2 separate regions of the Homo sapiens genome follow, and region 2 is linked to region 1. A link means that fine-mapping ties the variant in region 1 to the expression of a gene that starts in the linked region. Tissue or cell type: lung. Region 1 holds a variant in brackets; the other region holds the start of a gene. All regions are shown on one strand. Distances are from middle to middle.

Region 1 (8,109 bases):
TTTTAAGAATCAGTGCAAATATCTCCTCTTCTAGGATGCCTTTCATAAACTCTTCTCTCTGTCTTCTAGGAATTAAGGTATTCTCTTCTATGTTTGTTCATTGAATTTCTGTTGTGGCATTTATGGCTTTATATTTTTATTTTACTTTACCTGTGTTCTCTCCTACACACCTCCCACATGATCAGAAACCAGCACTGTGTCTGCTTGTTTAAAGAATAGTAAAATAAAAACATGGAGCTCTTAGCTCCCTCCGAAATTTCAGTTCCGTTTTGGATAATACTTCTGGAAAAAGAGATAGGAATATTTACTTTCTTATGGAAAATATTTTTTAATAAATTTATTTAATAAAAATATTCTGACAGTGTTGTAAATTTGCATTTGGTATATGAGCTTTTAGAACTGCTTATAAATATGTGAATTTTAAAGTAATGCATGATCATATTTAATTGTTGGACTTTTTATTTTCCTGTATAGGGCTGTCATCAGTGATCCAGAGCAAAATTTAGCCATTGAGCAAAAAGAAAGTGATCATATCCTTCCAGATTCAAAGATGACACCTCTTCGATTTAGAAAAAGAACACTACATGAAACAAAGTAAGAAGATTTTAATTACATAAAATGAGGATGCACTATGTTCTAAAAGTATTTTTAAAATGTACTTCTGTGTCTAGCTGGAGCTTTTGTGTTTGTTTCACTTTTTTCTATATAAAGAAAAGTGGAATTTTTTGAGTTCAGCTCCCAGTTCTGCTACTTCATGATATTAGGGGCAATACCTTATTTTACTCTCTTTGCCCTCCAGATTTTTTATTTGTAATTTAGGGGAAAAAAAGCCACAACCTTTGGAGATAATGGATGTGAAAATGTATCATATAGTTACCGAGAAATTTTACGTGTGCTATATATACTGGCTAAATCTCATTGGCATATTAAAACTTGGTGTTGACTATAAGATTTGTTTTGCATTTTACGTTGTAGCTTTTTCAACCTTAGAATTGGTATGATCTTTTACAATCCTCTGATGCTGTCCACTTAAATTCTTCAACAGTTTCACTGACATCTAACCTCGGCTTTAGTAGACATAAAAAAATCTACCAGTACCCACAGTAGCTTTTTTATATTTTCAGACTACTGTAATTCTTAGTACTTTCTTATCTTTTTTTAATCGTTTTGTCCCATTCTTATTTTCTGAAAGCCATTGCTTTTATCCATTTAAATATTTGGAAGCATTATGTGTTAGTTTCCTATTGCTGCTGTAACAATTACCATGAGCTTAGTATTCTAAAACACAGATTTATTGTTTAATTGTTCTGGAGTTCAGATGCCTAAAATCAAGGGATTGATAGGGCTACATTCCTTCTAGAGGTTTTAGTGGGGGTGAAGCTATTTTCTTGCCTTTTGCAGCTTCTAGAAGCTGCCTTCATTCCTTGGCTCATGGCCCCTTCCTCCATCTTCAAAGTCTTCAATAGCTGGTCTTATGCTGCATCACTCTGGCACTCTTTTTCTATAGATACATTTCTCTCTATGTTCCTCCAATAAGGACATGTGTGAGTGCGTTGAATCTACCCAGATAATCCCAATAATCTCTCCATTTTAATGTTCTTAATTTATCACATATGCCATGTCCCTTCTACCATATAATGTATTCCCATGTTCCAAGGATTAGGATGTAGACATGTTGGGCCAGAGGAGGTCGTCATTTATGTACCACACATCTAAACTGTCCTTTTTAAAAGTCAACTTTCATTGAAATAAAACGTACATTCACAGTGAATAAATTTTAGGTGCACAACATAGGAATTATCAAAAACAGAACAACACTCATGTACCAAATGCTCAGATCAAGAAACAGACAATTGCCAGTACCCCGAACCTCCCCTTATGCTGCCTCCCAGTTACTATTCATTTCCCCTGCTATACCAGGTTAACCTCTCTATCTTAATATCATAGATTAGAACTGCCTGGTTATGAAATTTATGTAAATGAAATTACAAGAAATCTAGACTCTGTGTCCAGCTTGTTTTTTCTCTCTAATGGCACTTATTTGTTAATTTAATTGTATATAAGATGTACAACATGATATTTTGATATACATAGTGAAATGTGTTTGTCTTCTTTTACCCAACATTAGGTTTGTGAGTTTTATCCATGGTGTTATTTGTAGTTGTCTTTTTTTATTCTCATTGTTGTATAGTATTTCATTATACCACATGCCACAACCTATCTATTCAGAGGTTGATAGATATTTGGCTCTTTGTGAATAGTGCTGCTATGAACTTCCTTGTTCATGCCTTTTGGTAAACATATGTACTCATTTCTGCTGAGTATATACTTAGAAGTAGAATTGTTGGACCACTTAGTATCCATATGTTCAGCTTTGAAAGATGCAGCCAAATAGCTTTCCCAACTGGTTGCTGAAATTTACACTCCCACCAGTAGCAGTATGAGTGTTCTTGTTGCACCATATCTTTGCCAGAGCTTGGTATTGTCTGCCTTTTTTTATTTGAGTTCTTCTTATGGATGTGTATTAGTGATTTTAATTTGCATTTCACTGGAGACTAATGTAGTTGAGTACTTTTCCATATGTATATAGGCCATTTTGATATCTTCATACAAAATTTCCATTCAAGCCTGTTGAGTTGTCTGTCTTCTTAATATTTATTTGTGGATCTTATTTACATGTTTTAGAAATGAATCCTTTTTCAACTATATTTGTCGCACATATCTTTTCCTACTCTGTAGTTACCTTTTCATTCTCTTGATTATATCTGTCTCAAAAACTAAAATTAGAAGTAGGAGTTTTAACATAGGCCAGTTTTCCTCTTTCCCTGTATTGTTAATGTCCTTTGTATATTCCTTAAAAATAATCTCTGCCTACCACTAAATCATTTTCCCTCTGACTTGTAATGCCACATATGTCATATGTCAAGTTGTTATATGCATGGTTATGACATGACATATTTATATGCATGCCAAATGCATGGTTGGTTTCTAGGCTTTTTCTTCAGTATCATCTGTTCCCTGTGTCAGTATTATCCTATCTTAATTAGTATTGCGTTGTATTAGAGTAAATACCTACAGCTTGTTTAAAGCTAATCTAGGTCCATGAAAAATCCTGTGGGGGTATCGATTAGAATTATTGAATTTTTAGCTTTCACTCCTCTTATGCCCCATTTATTTTTCCCAGAGGAGGAGAGAGTTCTGCT[A/T]CATAAATTTAGAGGCAGGAATTGGCGTGAGTAGTACAGCCCTTCCTCTCCCCTTTGTTTGGGAGGCAGCAGCACATTCTGCCCTGTGCATTGTTTTAGAGGGTCCCTCCCCAGTGGAAATGAGTGGCTTAGTCTGTTTAATTATAGTGGTAAGGAGTAGCTTGTGGTTGCTGCATACCTAAGCCATGGTTTCTAGTAGCTTTATCAATACTAAATTCATACTTTAATCTTCAGTCTTTCTGATTCTTCTTTATGTATTGGTAGAGAACTTGGGTTCCTAAAAGCAATTGGGCATCTAAAACCCAACATGGCACTTTGCATTTTATAATGTAAATACATATTTACTTTTATCTTTTCAAGAAGACTATAGGGCCCTTGAAGCTATTACTTCCATTTGTCACTGTTAAAGTGAGTTCTGTTTACTATTGAAAAGCAATATAATGTAATGGTTAAGAGCAAAGTTTTTTCTAGCTCTGCCATTTACTAATCATATGGCCCTGGACAATTTACTCATCTGTCTATGTTTCTGTAAAATTTATTTGAAAAATGGGAATAATAACACCTCAGAGTTATTATAAGTATTAAATAAACCAATACACATTAAAGTGATTTTAACAATGACTAGTATCTGGGAAATTCTCAATAAGTGGTAGCTGTACTGTTGCTGTTATTGTCTCAGCATTTAGAATTGTTTCAGGCACATAGTGGGCATTCAATAAACACATTAATCCCAGCAGATTAAACTGAATTGAGATGGTTACACTCCCATGGCTCTACTCTGTGCTTACAAACTCTCATTTGGTTTGCAGGCTCACGTTTCCTGTTCCCTGCTTCCTTTTTGTAGATACCTAGATTTTATAGAGGTGTAGCTTTCAAGATCCCAGTGACCCACACACTTACTTACTAATTACATTACTGCCATTTCATTATACCTGCAGTTTTATGGAAGGAATATTATTAAATTATTTGTGAAGCAAAGGAGAAATATATCATTTAGTCTTCAGATCTCTTAATATAAAGGAGATTATTGGCAGTAGGGTGTTTTGGTTTTGCTTTATATTGTTAAATAGAATTTTAGGGCTGGCAGCCTTTATGAGATCATTCAGTACTGTCTGAAGGCCATAAAGATTAAATAACCTATTGATCTGTGACAAAGTTCGAACTTCATTCAGCACTCTTCCCCACTCTTTAGTTATTCTGGTAAGGAATGTTTTCAGCTACACATCACTGAAAACCGATTGATAGTGGCTTAAACAAGTCAGGATTTATTTTTCTTATATAGTTAGCTGCTTGGAGGTAGGCATTTACTGGTTTTGGTTCAGTAGCTTAGTGATGTTACCGCTCTAGGCTGGCTTTCCTATATCTTTTTGGTCGTTCTGATGTGGTGGATTGATCTCATGGTGGCTATAGTGGCTCCTAGCATCACATCCCTGCCACGTTCACAGGCAGGAACTCTTCTCATGCCACTCTCTTACCAGGACAAAAGAAAGTCTTTCCTGGAAGCTTACTGGCAGAACTAGGTCCCTTACTCATCCTTAATTGCAAGATGCTAAGAGCAAATTCTTTTTTTTTTTTTTTTTTTTTTTTTTTTTGAGACGGAGTCTGGCTCTGTCGCCCAGGCTGGAGTGCAGTGGCGCGATCTCGGCTCACTGCAAGCTCCGCCTCCCGGGTTCACGCCATTCTCCTGCCTCAGCCTCCTGAGTAGCTGAGACTACGGGCGCCCACCACCACGCCCGGCTAATTTTTTGTAATTTTTAGTAGAGATGGGGTTTCACCGTGTTAGCCAGATGGTCTCGATCTCCTGACCTCGTGATCCACCCGCCTCGGCCTCCCTAAGTGCTGGGATTACAGGTGTGAGCCACCGCGCCCGGCCGCTAAGAGCAAATTCTATGGTGTGAGGGAAGCAAAGAAGAAGAGGGTTAGAAATGGCATTCAGATAGCCCTGCAACAGTGCCAGTCGCAAATGTTGTATCTCTATTCAGTATTTACTTTTATAGCACTTTGATGCTATAGATTCTAATATAAAAGTCATTCACGTATTATATACTATATCTCAGAGTTATTTCTTTTGTGTCTGCTACAATTAGCAATCTGAAAAAAAGAGTTTTTTTTTACCTTTATTGTTATCCAATCTGTGTGGTTTCAAAATATTAACATAACTTTTTTTGTACATTTACAATTTCCATCAAGTTATAGGTATCTTGAAAAATTACTGACAAAATGTATTTCTTAACAGGATAAGAACTCATTCTACATTAACTGAAAATGTGCTTTCTCATAAATTACAGTTTGATGGTAGGATCGTATCACGGTAATTGTGATTTTATTAAAATTTTTAATCCTATGATTATAAAAACGTATTCTCTTTTTGAATAGAAATGACAGTAATGAGATTATATAGGTTTGTGTCATTTAAATAAAAATACGTGAATTTAGAACAAACATTTTAAAATAATAGCTATTAATCTGTTATAAAAATATAGGAAATATGAATCTGTAGGAAAAACATTCTAATTAAAAGTTATCTTTAAAGCGAATTTAAATATTTTTTAAAAAGTAACAGCAGTGAATTTTTTAGAGTTATATTACTACTAGAGTTTTGTAAACTGAAAACTAATGTTTTATAAGCTGCTTTATTTAATTTTATCTTAATGATTTAACAGATTATTGATAGGTGCAGTAAGTGACAAGGAAAATAATTTTTAAATCTATTATTTCAGTCTTATAGATTTCCAGTAATAAATAATTCTACTTGATGTTCTTTGTATATTACTGATAAAATGTGTATTTTAAATTATTTTATTTGTTTAGTGAATTTAAAGCTTTCTATGACAATAAAAGATAATAAATTTGTATCTATGGGTGCCTTCTTGCAACCTCAACACTTTTAAAGATAATTCACATTGTCTTAAAAGTCTATGTTGAATTAATAATGTACATCGTAAATATATCCACTTTTAATGTCAGTGTAAGATTATTTTTTTCTGCATTCAAATCTAACTTTTAGTGGACATTTCAGCAAGCTATGTTTTTGTGTTTTCCCTACAGTTTCCCATAACCTTCACTCATTGCCACATACATAAGAGAGTTAGCTATCCTTCTTGAGATGAACATGTTTTTTAGTTAATTCATCTAAAAATTATTCTATTTGAAGATGTTTGATTTCATTCTATTTTTCCAGTAATGGACGTGATGCTTGCAGAGAGCTCATTGGGTTCTTTTTCACTCATGACCAATCCCTTACAATTTATGAATATCGACAATTTGGGAAAAATAGGTATGCCATTAAACATTGTTAGAACTCTGGAGATGTTCACTTCCGAGAGAAGCTAAATAACTTTCCATTTTTTTTTCATTTACTTTCTAGAACAAATGTGCTTCCTTTTATTCAAAAAAGCATTTATAGTCATCAGTGTGGACGAAGAAAAGGAAAACAATACCGACTTGGTGATTTTTATGTTGTAAGTGGTGTGTGTGTGTGCACACATTTAATACCAGATGGTGGATTTTGTGGAGTCCCATGGAGGTGGAGGAGTAGGGCTTCTAGTCTTCAATTTATTTCCTCTCCTGCATCCTGAACAGGGTCATTTGTGTGGGCTAATGGTTGATGTTTTGCCAGGAGCTTCTGCTTCCCAGCCCCAAATCTCAAGTCTGAATCCAAGCATATCATTTATTTTCTGTAACACCCCCCTTCCCATTCCACAACATGGGTTGTCTCCAGATGAAGTTGTATCTTCGTACTTTGAAAAGTTCTTCAAAGCTGTGTCATTGGGTGAGTGGCTATCTCAATATTACCCAAAGTAGGTTTATCCTCCGAGGATGGACAGTTTCCTCCATGTGAAGGGGTATGGGCCTCTGGAGCTGTCATTTTTTTGATGGATAGCCTATCTTCCTTGTGATTTTCCCACTTTGGGAAATTCCCGGCATGTGGTGTGTCACAAGGATTCCCTAGAATGGGTGGAGCATAGATAATGTTACAGTTTGTGTAGTGCTCTTAAATTTTAAATCATATTTACACTTTATATCGTGAGTAAAATACAGCACTATCCACAGTGATCATTCAGGTAATATATGTTTCTATCCTAAGATCTGTAGATGGAACAGTAAGTTAGACTCATTCCCTGCTTTTTTGGAGCTGGCAGTCTAATAGGAGACACAGATAGATAAGAGGGCCAGATAGGAGGGGCAATGTGGGCCAGATAGGAGGGGTGATGGCCTAGTTTTGTGGAATCAAAGGAGGCTTCCTAGAGAAAATGCCATCTACCCTTGACTAGGAGTTAGCAAGGCTGGGATAAGGGAATAGGTTAGGGTGGGGAAAAGCTTCCAGGTGGAGAAGACAGCTTGTTCTAAGAACAAAAAGGAAGAGAGCACATGACTTATTTGGAGAACTGGAAGTAGTTCAGTCTGGTTGGAGGAGAGTTCAAGGTGGAGGTTGGCAAGAGATGAGTCAGAGCTTATTAAAAGCAGCCCATGTTAAAGAGTTATCTAACATGTATTGGGGAGTCACTGGAAGAGAAGATGTGGATGGAATGGGGGAAGGTGGCATGATCAGATTTGTGATTTTGAAAGATCTGTCTGGTTACAATGTGGGGAAGGAATTGAAGACTAGATACACAAGGGCAGGATAGGATTGAATTATATTAATCTAGGAGAGAGATTATGGCAACCTGAATAAGCAAATGACTCTGGCTATGAAGCTAATTAGAAGAATAAAAATTCTTTGATAGGTAGAGTCAGTACAATTTGGTGGCCAGTTAAGGGAGAAGTATGGGTTGAGGAAAAATTTTACATCTTATACTTAAATACACTATACACTATACATATGACACTCAAGCCTGCCTCTTGAGATCTAGAGAAAATCAGCTCGACTCCCATTTCACAACCTGCAGAAGAATGTTTAATGCAT
Region 2 (8,109 bases), 89 kb before region 1:
AACGATTTTTAACAAGGGTGGAAAGACCATTTTATGGGGAAAATAACAATCTTTCCAGCAAATGAAGTTAGGAAAACTGGATATCCACATGCAAAAGAATAAGCTGGACCCTTACCTTACACAATATACAAAACTTAACTCAAAGACCTAAAACTATAAAACCTTTAAAAAGCACAGGGGAAAAGCTTCATGATATTGAATTTGGCAATGACTTCTTGGATACGACAAAAAATACATACAATAACAACAAAAAATGATAAATTATACTTCATTGACGTTAAAAACTTTTGTTTATCAAAGGATATTATCAATAGAGTGCAAAGGCAACTTACAAAACGGGAGAAAATACTTTCAAATCATATATCTGAAAAAGATTAATATCCAGAATCTATAAAAATTCCTATAATTCAACAACAAAAAATCTAACAAGTTGGCCAAAAAATGTGCAAACGACTTGAATAGATAGTTCTTCAAAGAAGAGAAAATCTTGGTCAAGAAGCAAATAAAAAGATGCTCAATATCAGTAATCATTAGGGAAATGCAGATAAAAAATACAGTGAGGTATCACTTCATAACTGCTAGATGGTTATCATTAAGAAAAAAAGAGGAATAAGGAAAATAAAACAGAAAATAACAAGTGTTATCAAGGATGTGGAGAAATTGAACCCTTGAACATTCTTGGTGGGAATGTAAAATGGTGCAGCCACTATGGAAAACAGAATGGGGGTTCTTTGAAAAATTAAACAGAATTATCATATGATACAGCAATTCCAGTTCTGGGTATATACCCAAAAACAGCAAAATCAGGAACTGGAGCAGATAAATGTACACCCATGTCTATAGCAGTATTATTCACAACAGCCAAATAATGGAAGCAATCTAAATATCCACTGACCAATGAATGGATAAACAAAATGTGGTATATGCATACAGTAGAATATTATTCAGCTGTAAAAAGACAGGTAATTCTGACACATGCTACAACATGGGTGAACTTTATAGACATTATACCAAATGAAATAAGCTAGTAACAAAGACAAATATTATATGATTCCACTTATATTTGGTACCTTAAGAAGTCAAATTAATAGGAATAGAAAGTAGAATGGTGATAGAGGCCTGGGAGGAGGGGAGATGGAGAGTAAAGTAATTATTTGATGGGTATGGAGTCTCAGTTCAGGAAGACGAAAAAATTTTGGAGATAGGTGGTGGTAATGGGTGCACAACAATGCAAATGTACTTAATGCCACTGAACTATACACTTAAAAATGGTTAAAATGGTAAATGTTATGTCCTGTATATTGTAATACAATTTTTTAAAAACAACAATTTTTTTGGTATTTAAAAGCAAGGTAGAACAAAAGTACTACACGGCAATAGCATGAATAAGGATGGAAAGTATTCAGAATTTGTGTTCTAAGATCTTATTAATATTTGGGTGGAGTTTACAGGTATTAACTTTTGGAATTTATAAAAAGTACATACATTAAAATACTAAAAATAACCAATAAAAGAGTTTAAATAAGCTGAGTGATGTCCAAATCTGCTAAAGAAACATTTTAAATAGGCCATACTATTATGATAGACTATACTATTTACAGTTAATATTTATGTCCTAATAAAATACATGGGAAAAATATACATTAACTTCAAGAAAGAAGAAAAAGGTAAAAATTTAGGGTGGGACTTTAACCTATATATCAAATACTATTCCTTTAAAAATGTCTATATTTAAAAATATCGATTGTGGGTATACAGGTATATTATTTTATATACCTTATGTTTGAAATACTATATAATTTTTAGAGATGAGATAGAAAACCTATGAAAAGTTGTATTAGAAAGTATTATGTGTTTATTAATTTTCAGGAGTAAGGATAATCTTCAAATTGGGAAGAAACAGAATTAGTCACAAAAAATGGGAAATTAGTTGAAACTCCCAAATATCCCCAAACTCTATAATTGAATTCAAAAGAAAAAGAATTGGCTTAGAAAAAAGTATCTTCAGCAGATAGAACCAAATGCTAGCATAGTTCTATAAGACAGCATATAATCTGACATGGAAATGCTGACAATATAAAAGGTAAAGGAAATGACGAAGAAAGAACTCAAGTATGTCCTATCAAAATAGTATTTTAAAATCAACATTAAAACAAATGACCATTTTTGTAATTTATTCATTTAGCAAGTAATTGAACATGTCCAAATCAGTGAGGATGTGGTGAAAACAGAACAGCTGGTATTTGCTAAATTTGGCACTACCCTTTAGCATAGCAATTGCTATGTGTTAAATTAATAAAAAATATCATACCCTTAATTTATTTATCCCATTTCTGAAATTTGTGCTAAGAACTAATGCTGAAGGAAGAAAAGACATGTCTAGGAAAGTAGTCCTTGCAATATAATTTATAAGTTTGAAGCTTCTAATTCCCTAAGAGGACAGTTATTTATTTGCCGGATTTTCAGTCATTTTAATGACAGTCAGGAAAACTCAATAGCAACCAGGGAATAGTTGAGTTGTTAAATGACTATAGGGTGTAAAAGAGGGGGAAAGCAAGAACCGCATTGTAAGGTAAGGCAAAATCAGGGTCAAGACTAGGGTGAGGAAACTGAGACACTTCCTTAGGAGCCAAATTTGGAATGGGCACAAAAAAAAAAAATCAAGATAACAAACATTTTTAAAAGGCAAAGCTAATGTGACATCGATGATGGAAAAAGCTAAAAATAAAAATTTCAAATACAAACAGAATCTCATCTTGATTTGCACCACCCTGAGAGTGTCGCACTTGTTTTTCCCTAATCCAGACCCAAGGAACCTGTCTTTGTTAAATTTTTTAACATTTTCTTTACCCTTGATATTGATATTTTTGCACTGATTTTTAATTTTTAAAAACCCGTTGCATTAAAATATCATTTTCTTGAATTGGCGCCCCCTTAAAATCTGCACTTCAGGCCAGTGCCTCCATCACCTTAGTCCTGGCCCTGTGTAATATCATGGTAATAAGCATGTGTTAGAGTGTCCGCAGTTTTTCTCTGTGTAAACTTCACGTGTACTTTAAAAACCAAGCTAAAAGTGCGGTTCTCCGCGATCCTTCAGCCTCAGAGCAGTGGCCCCAACTACCCGAGATCCAGGGAGGCGTTGTGGCAACGGTAGTGGAAGGGTCGGCAAACCGCCTTCCGGCCTCACCATGAAGCGCAAGTTAGACCCTCGGGGAATGACGTCGCCCCGCAGCTCATTGTGGAGGTTCACGTACTCGTTGATAAAGTCTACGTCCTCCTCGTCTGGCAAAAATCTGGCGTTCAAACTAGAACCCAGTAGCAGTAGCCACAGCTCACAGAGCCGCAGCTTCAAAACGCCCCCTACTGCCAGGGGTAGGGACTGGGCCCTCCACTCCCGGGCGAAGGGCCTTGCGGCCTCCATGGTCCACCGGCCGCTGACAGGCCAGTGCGCACGCGCTGGCCGTCCCAGTGACCTGCCAATCTACGGAGGACGCAAGCAAGCCTTGTCCCGCCTCCCGGAAGGAGAAAGGGAGGAGGGAGGAGGGAAAAACAAAGGAGGGAGGAGGGGGTAAGGAGGAGGGAGGAGAGAAGAGGGAGGGGAGAGTGGGTAGGGGAGGGGGAGAGGAGGGGAAAGCTAGACCTGCAGAGTGAAGAAAGCTGGTAATAGATGTCTGACAAACTAAAGAAAGACTTGTGTTACGTGAGTAAGCCCTTTTCACTAAACTAATGTAGTGAAATGTTATCCCGAATTGATTTCTGACACTGAATGATATGTCGTTATTAATGAGTCATCAGTTTGTATGGTAAATGCCAATTGCTGAGTAACAGGTCTGAGGAACCTTCTAATTGTGCCAGGTGAAATGATTTTTCTGCGATACAGATACAAATTCAATTAAATTTTTTTTCCCCATTACCTGTTGAGTTGGAAATTTGGTGCAGGGCCTGCCTTTTATTTTCCTCAGGGACAGAATGGAATACAGAAATATTGCTAGTTCTTAAGGCCAAAGAAGTTCTTAAGGCCAACTTAATTGATGAGATTTTTTTCAGTTTTTAAATGAACCTTTGTGGGAAACCACAAAATAAATGGGAGTGAAGGGAGAGTAGGGATCACCAAACTCTTCAAAGGTTAAAACATTTCTACTTCTTCTCTCATCAGCACAATTCAGACAGCCCGGAATATCAAGATTCATCTTTTTCACTAATTGTGGCATTCACAGTAAGAACGAACTCTTTTGTTTTCTTTTTTTGTTCCAGACAAAATTGGCTAATATCTAGCTGATTTTGGTCTGATCTGTTTACCTCCAAACATTTTCCTCAAAAACAAAACAAAACAAAACCAACTTGCTTTGAAGACTTTAAATTCTAAGCATGGAAAAAAAGCAAGTATTAGTTTTGGAATACACGTTTGCATATTACATATTGTGCTTAATAGCATTAAGCAGATATGGAAAATTGACATTGGGAGAGAATTTTACTACAAAACATTGTAACAGGTTAGCCAAACATTTATAAAAAGAAAAGTGCTTTTAAAAATTGTCTGTGATGCACACAATTGAAAAACAATAGACCTATGTAAGATGGTTTCATTTATGCCCTTGAATACTTACTACTATGACTGCATAGTAGTAAGTTTTAAGTGATTGAGAAAGATCAGTAGACAAGACACAGATCCAGCTTTCAAGCAGCTTACAATTTAGTGAATTAGCAATCAGGCAGTATTTAAAACGTGATAAATACAAAGCCAAAATTCTATTGCTTGGTACTCTTGTGGAGGAGCAGGGAAGCCTTTCTGGAAATTGTATACAGAAAGTGAAACAGACAAGTCTAAGATAGCATTCTAAACAAAGGGAAAAGCATGTAATGTGCCTAAGGAGAGGAAGATCCTAAACGCTAGAAGTATTTTAGTATGGCTAGAACCTATTTAAGGGTGAAGGTGGCAAGTGCTGAAAGATGCAATTCTTTTATTATGGTGGTACTGTTGTTAGACTGCAAAAAATGCTAAAGAAAAAGTATAAATAGAATAATGCAATCTTAGATTTGGAAGAAATTTTAGCCACTATTGCTAGCCTCCTGTGTTAGGTATACTCTCCGGAACATCACTGACAGGTGATCATCACATCCTTTTCTTAAATAATTAGACCAACAGGGAAGCCCATTCCACTGCTAGACATCTCATTCAATAAATATTTCCTTGGTACTTCCTGTGTGTCACAGCCCAGCTAAAGGCTCAAATGCTGAACAAGCTAGACATGGAGTCTATCCACAGGGAGCTTTTAATTAAAGGTGACACAGATGAATCATCAAACAGTTACAATACAGAGTGGTGAATACTATTTTTAATCTATTTCACAAATATTTAATGTGTCAGGCACTATTTAAAATGCTTGGACAATATCAACTCACTCAAGTCACACAAATCTTAAGAAATAGTTATTATCCCTTTAACAGATGGAAAAACAACTGAGAAAAAGAGAAATCAAATTGCCTGAGGCCACCCAGCCAGGGAGTGGTAGAGCTACTTCTGTGTTTTTTTTGTTTTGTTTTGTTTTTTTTACCAATTCCTTTTCTAAAAATAGACTCTTTTTTAATAGCAGTTTTAGGTTCACAACAAAACTGAGAGGAAGGTACAGAGATTTCTCATGTAACTCCTGTCCCCACACATACATAAACTCCCTCATTATCAACATCCCACAACAGAGTAGTACATTTACAACTGATGAACCTACATTTATCCATTATTCCCACCCAGAGTTCATAGTGTATATTAGGGCTCATTCTTGGTGTTGCACATTTCATGGGTTGGTATAAATGTATAATGACATGTTTCCAGCATTTAGTACCATATAGAGTCGTTTTGCTGCCTAAAAATCCCTGGTGCTCAGACTATTCATCTCTCCCTGCCTCCTAACCCCGGCAACTACTAATTTTTTTTTACTGTCTTCATAGTTTTGCTTTTTCCAGAATGTCATATAGTTGGAGTCATACAGTATGTAGTCTTTTCAGATTGGCTTCTTTCACTTAGTAATATGTGTGTAAATTTCTTCCATGTCTTTTCGTGGCTTGATACCTAATTTCTTTTTAGCACTGAATAATTTTTCATTTTCTGGATGTACCAACATTTCTTTATTCCAGTAGCTACTGAAGGACATGTTGGCTGATTCTAGGTATTGGTGTATTATTCTATTCTCATGCCACTAATAAAGACAGACCCAAGACTGGGTAATTTATAAAGGAAAGAGGTTTGATGAACTCACAGTTCCACATGGCTGGGAGCCCTCGCAATCATAGTGGAAGACGAAGGAGGAGCAAAGGGACATCTTACATGGTGGCAGCCAAGAGACCATGTGCAGGGGAACTACTCTTTATAAAACCATCAGATCTCATGAGACATAATCATTACCATGAGAACAGCACGGGAAAAACCTGCCCCCATGATTCAGTTACCTCTCACCTAGTCTCTCCCATGACACGTGGGGATTATTACAATTCAGGGTAAGATTTGGGTGGGGACACAGAGCCAAACCATATCAATTTGCAAATGTGAATACAGTTGTTATAAACATCTTTGTGCAGGTTTCTGTGTAGACATAAGTTTTCAACTCCTTTGGATAAATACCATGAGCATGATTGCTGGATCATAACTATATGTTATAGTAAATGCTATTGTTTGGATATTTGTCCCTTTCAAAATTCATGTTGAAACTTAATCCCCAATGTAACAGTATTGAAAGGTGGAGCCTTTAAGAAGTGATTGGGTCTGTCCTCATGAATGTATTGATCCATTCGTAGATTAATGGGTTAATGGATTAGTTTAGCCCCTTTACCATGTGATACTCTGTGCTGCCTTGGGATTCTGCAGAGTCCCCAGTAGCAAGAAGGGCCACACCAGATATGGCCCCTTGACTTTGAAATTCTCAGCCTCCATAATTCTAAGAAGTCAATTCCTTTTCTTTATAACTTACTCAGTTTCAGGTATTTTCTTATGAGCAACATTAAACAGACTATGGCAGTAAGCATAATGTTCAGTTTTTTAAGAAACTGCTAAACTATGTTCCAAAGTGGCTGTGCCATTTTGCATTCCCACCAGCAGTGAATGAGAGCTCATGTTCCTCCACATCCTTGTCAGCATTTGGTGTTGCCAGTGTTCTGGATTTTGGCCATTCTAAAAGGTGTGTAGTGGTATTTCATTGGTATTTTAATGTGCGTTTTCCTGGTGACATATGATGCACCTTTTCATATGCTTATTTGAGTACTGTATGTCTTCTTTGGTGAGGTGTCCATTAAGGTTTTTGACCCATTTTTAAATTAAACTGTTTGTTTTTCGATTGTTGAGTTTAAAGAGTCTTTGCATATTGTGCGTAATAGTTTTTATTGCATATATCTTCTGTAAGTATTTTTCTCCCAGGCCATGGCTTGTTTTTTCATTCTCTTGAGAATGTCTTTTGCTGAGTAGAAATTTTTAGTTTTAATGGCACCCAGCTTATCGATTTGTTCTTTCATAAATCATACCTTTTGTGTTGTATCTAAAAGGTTATTGCCAAATTAAAGATCATCTAGATTTTCTCTTATATAACCTTCTGGGAGTTTATACTTTTGTATTTACATTTAGGTCTGTGATCCATTTTGATTAATTTTTGTGAAGGGTATAAAGTTTGTGCTTAGACTGGTTTTTTTTTCTTGTATATGGACGTTCAGTTGTTCCAGAACCATTTGTTGAAAAGACTACATTTCTCCATTATATTGCCTTTGCTCCTTTGTCAAAGATCAGTTGACTTTATTTATGCTGTTCTATTTCTCAGCTCTCTATTCTGTTCCATGGATTTATTTCTACTTTCACCAATACTATACCTTTTAAATTATTGTATTTTTGCTATTGTTTGAATATGTCCCCCTAAATTCATATGCTGGAAAATTAATCCCCAATACAACAGCATTGAGGGGTGGGATCTTTAAGAGGTGATTGGGTCATGAGAGCCCTGTCCTCATGAATTGTATTAATGCCATTATCACAGGATTGGTAAAATATTGAGGGAGTGAGTTCCTGATAAAAGAGTGAGTTCAGCTCCCTTCTTTTGCACATGTGCATGCACTCTCTTCCTCTGTGAACTC

The links. PIP is the estimated chance that this variant, and not a neighbour inherited with it, causes the effect.
Region 2: GLIPR1L2 starts here. The variant in region 1 is fine-mapped to the expression of GLIPR1L2 in lung (TOPMed, PIP above 0.99). The same link has a PIP of 0.9 or more in atrial appendage.

The regions. Positions count from the first base shown.
Region 1 is chr12:75,297,242-75,305,350 of GRCh38, reverse strand. CAPS2 (calcyphosine 2) reads left to right here. Exons shown (of 17, transcript NM_001355024.4): 8 at 475-594; 9 at 5,440-5,514; 10 at 6,385-6,480; 11 at 6,571-6,664. It overlaps CAPS2-AS1 (CAPS2 antisense RNA 1), which reads right to left. Exons shown (of 4, transcript XR_001749213.2): 4 at 7,066-7,151. Among named protein-coding and RNA genes, the nearest start is that of CAPS2, 29 kb to the left of the region's middle. The variant A/T (reference allele first, on the strand shown) is at 3,204.
Region 2 is chr12:75,386,429-75,394,537 of GRCh38, reverse strand. GLIPR1L2 (GLIPR1 like 2) reads right to left here and starts at 3,449. Exons shown (of 6, transcript NM_001270396.2): 1 at 3,188-3,449. The coding sequence starts at 3,421. It also overlaps a transcript of CAPS2 not described here. RefSeq lists an enhancer at 3,388-3,517 and a silencer at 3,475-3,647.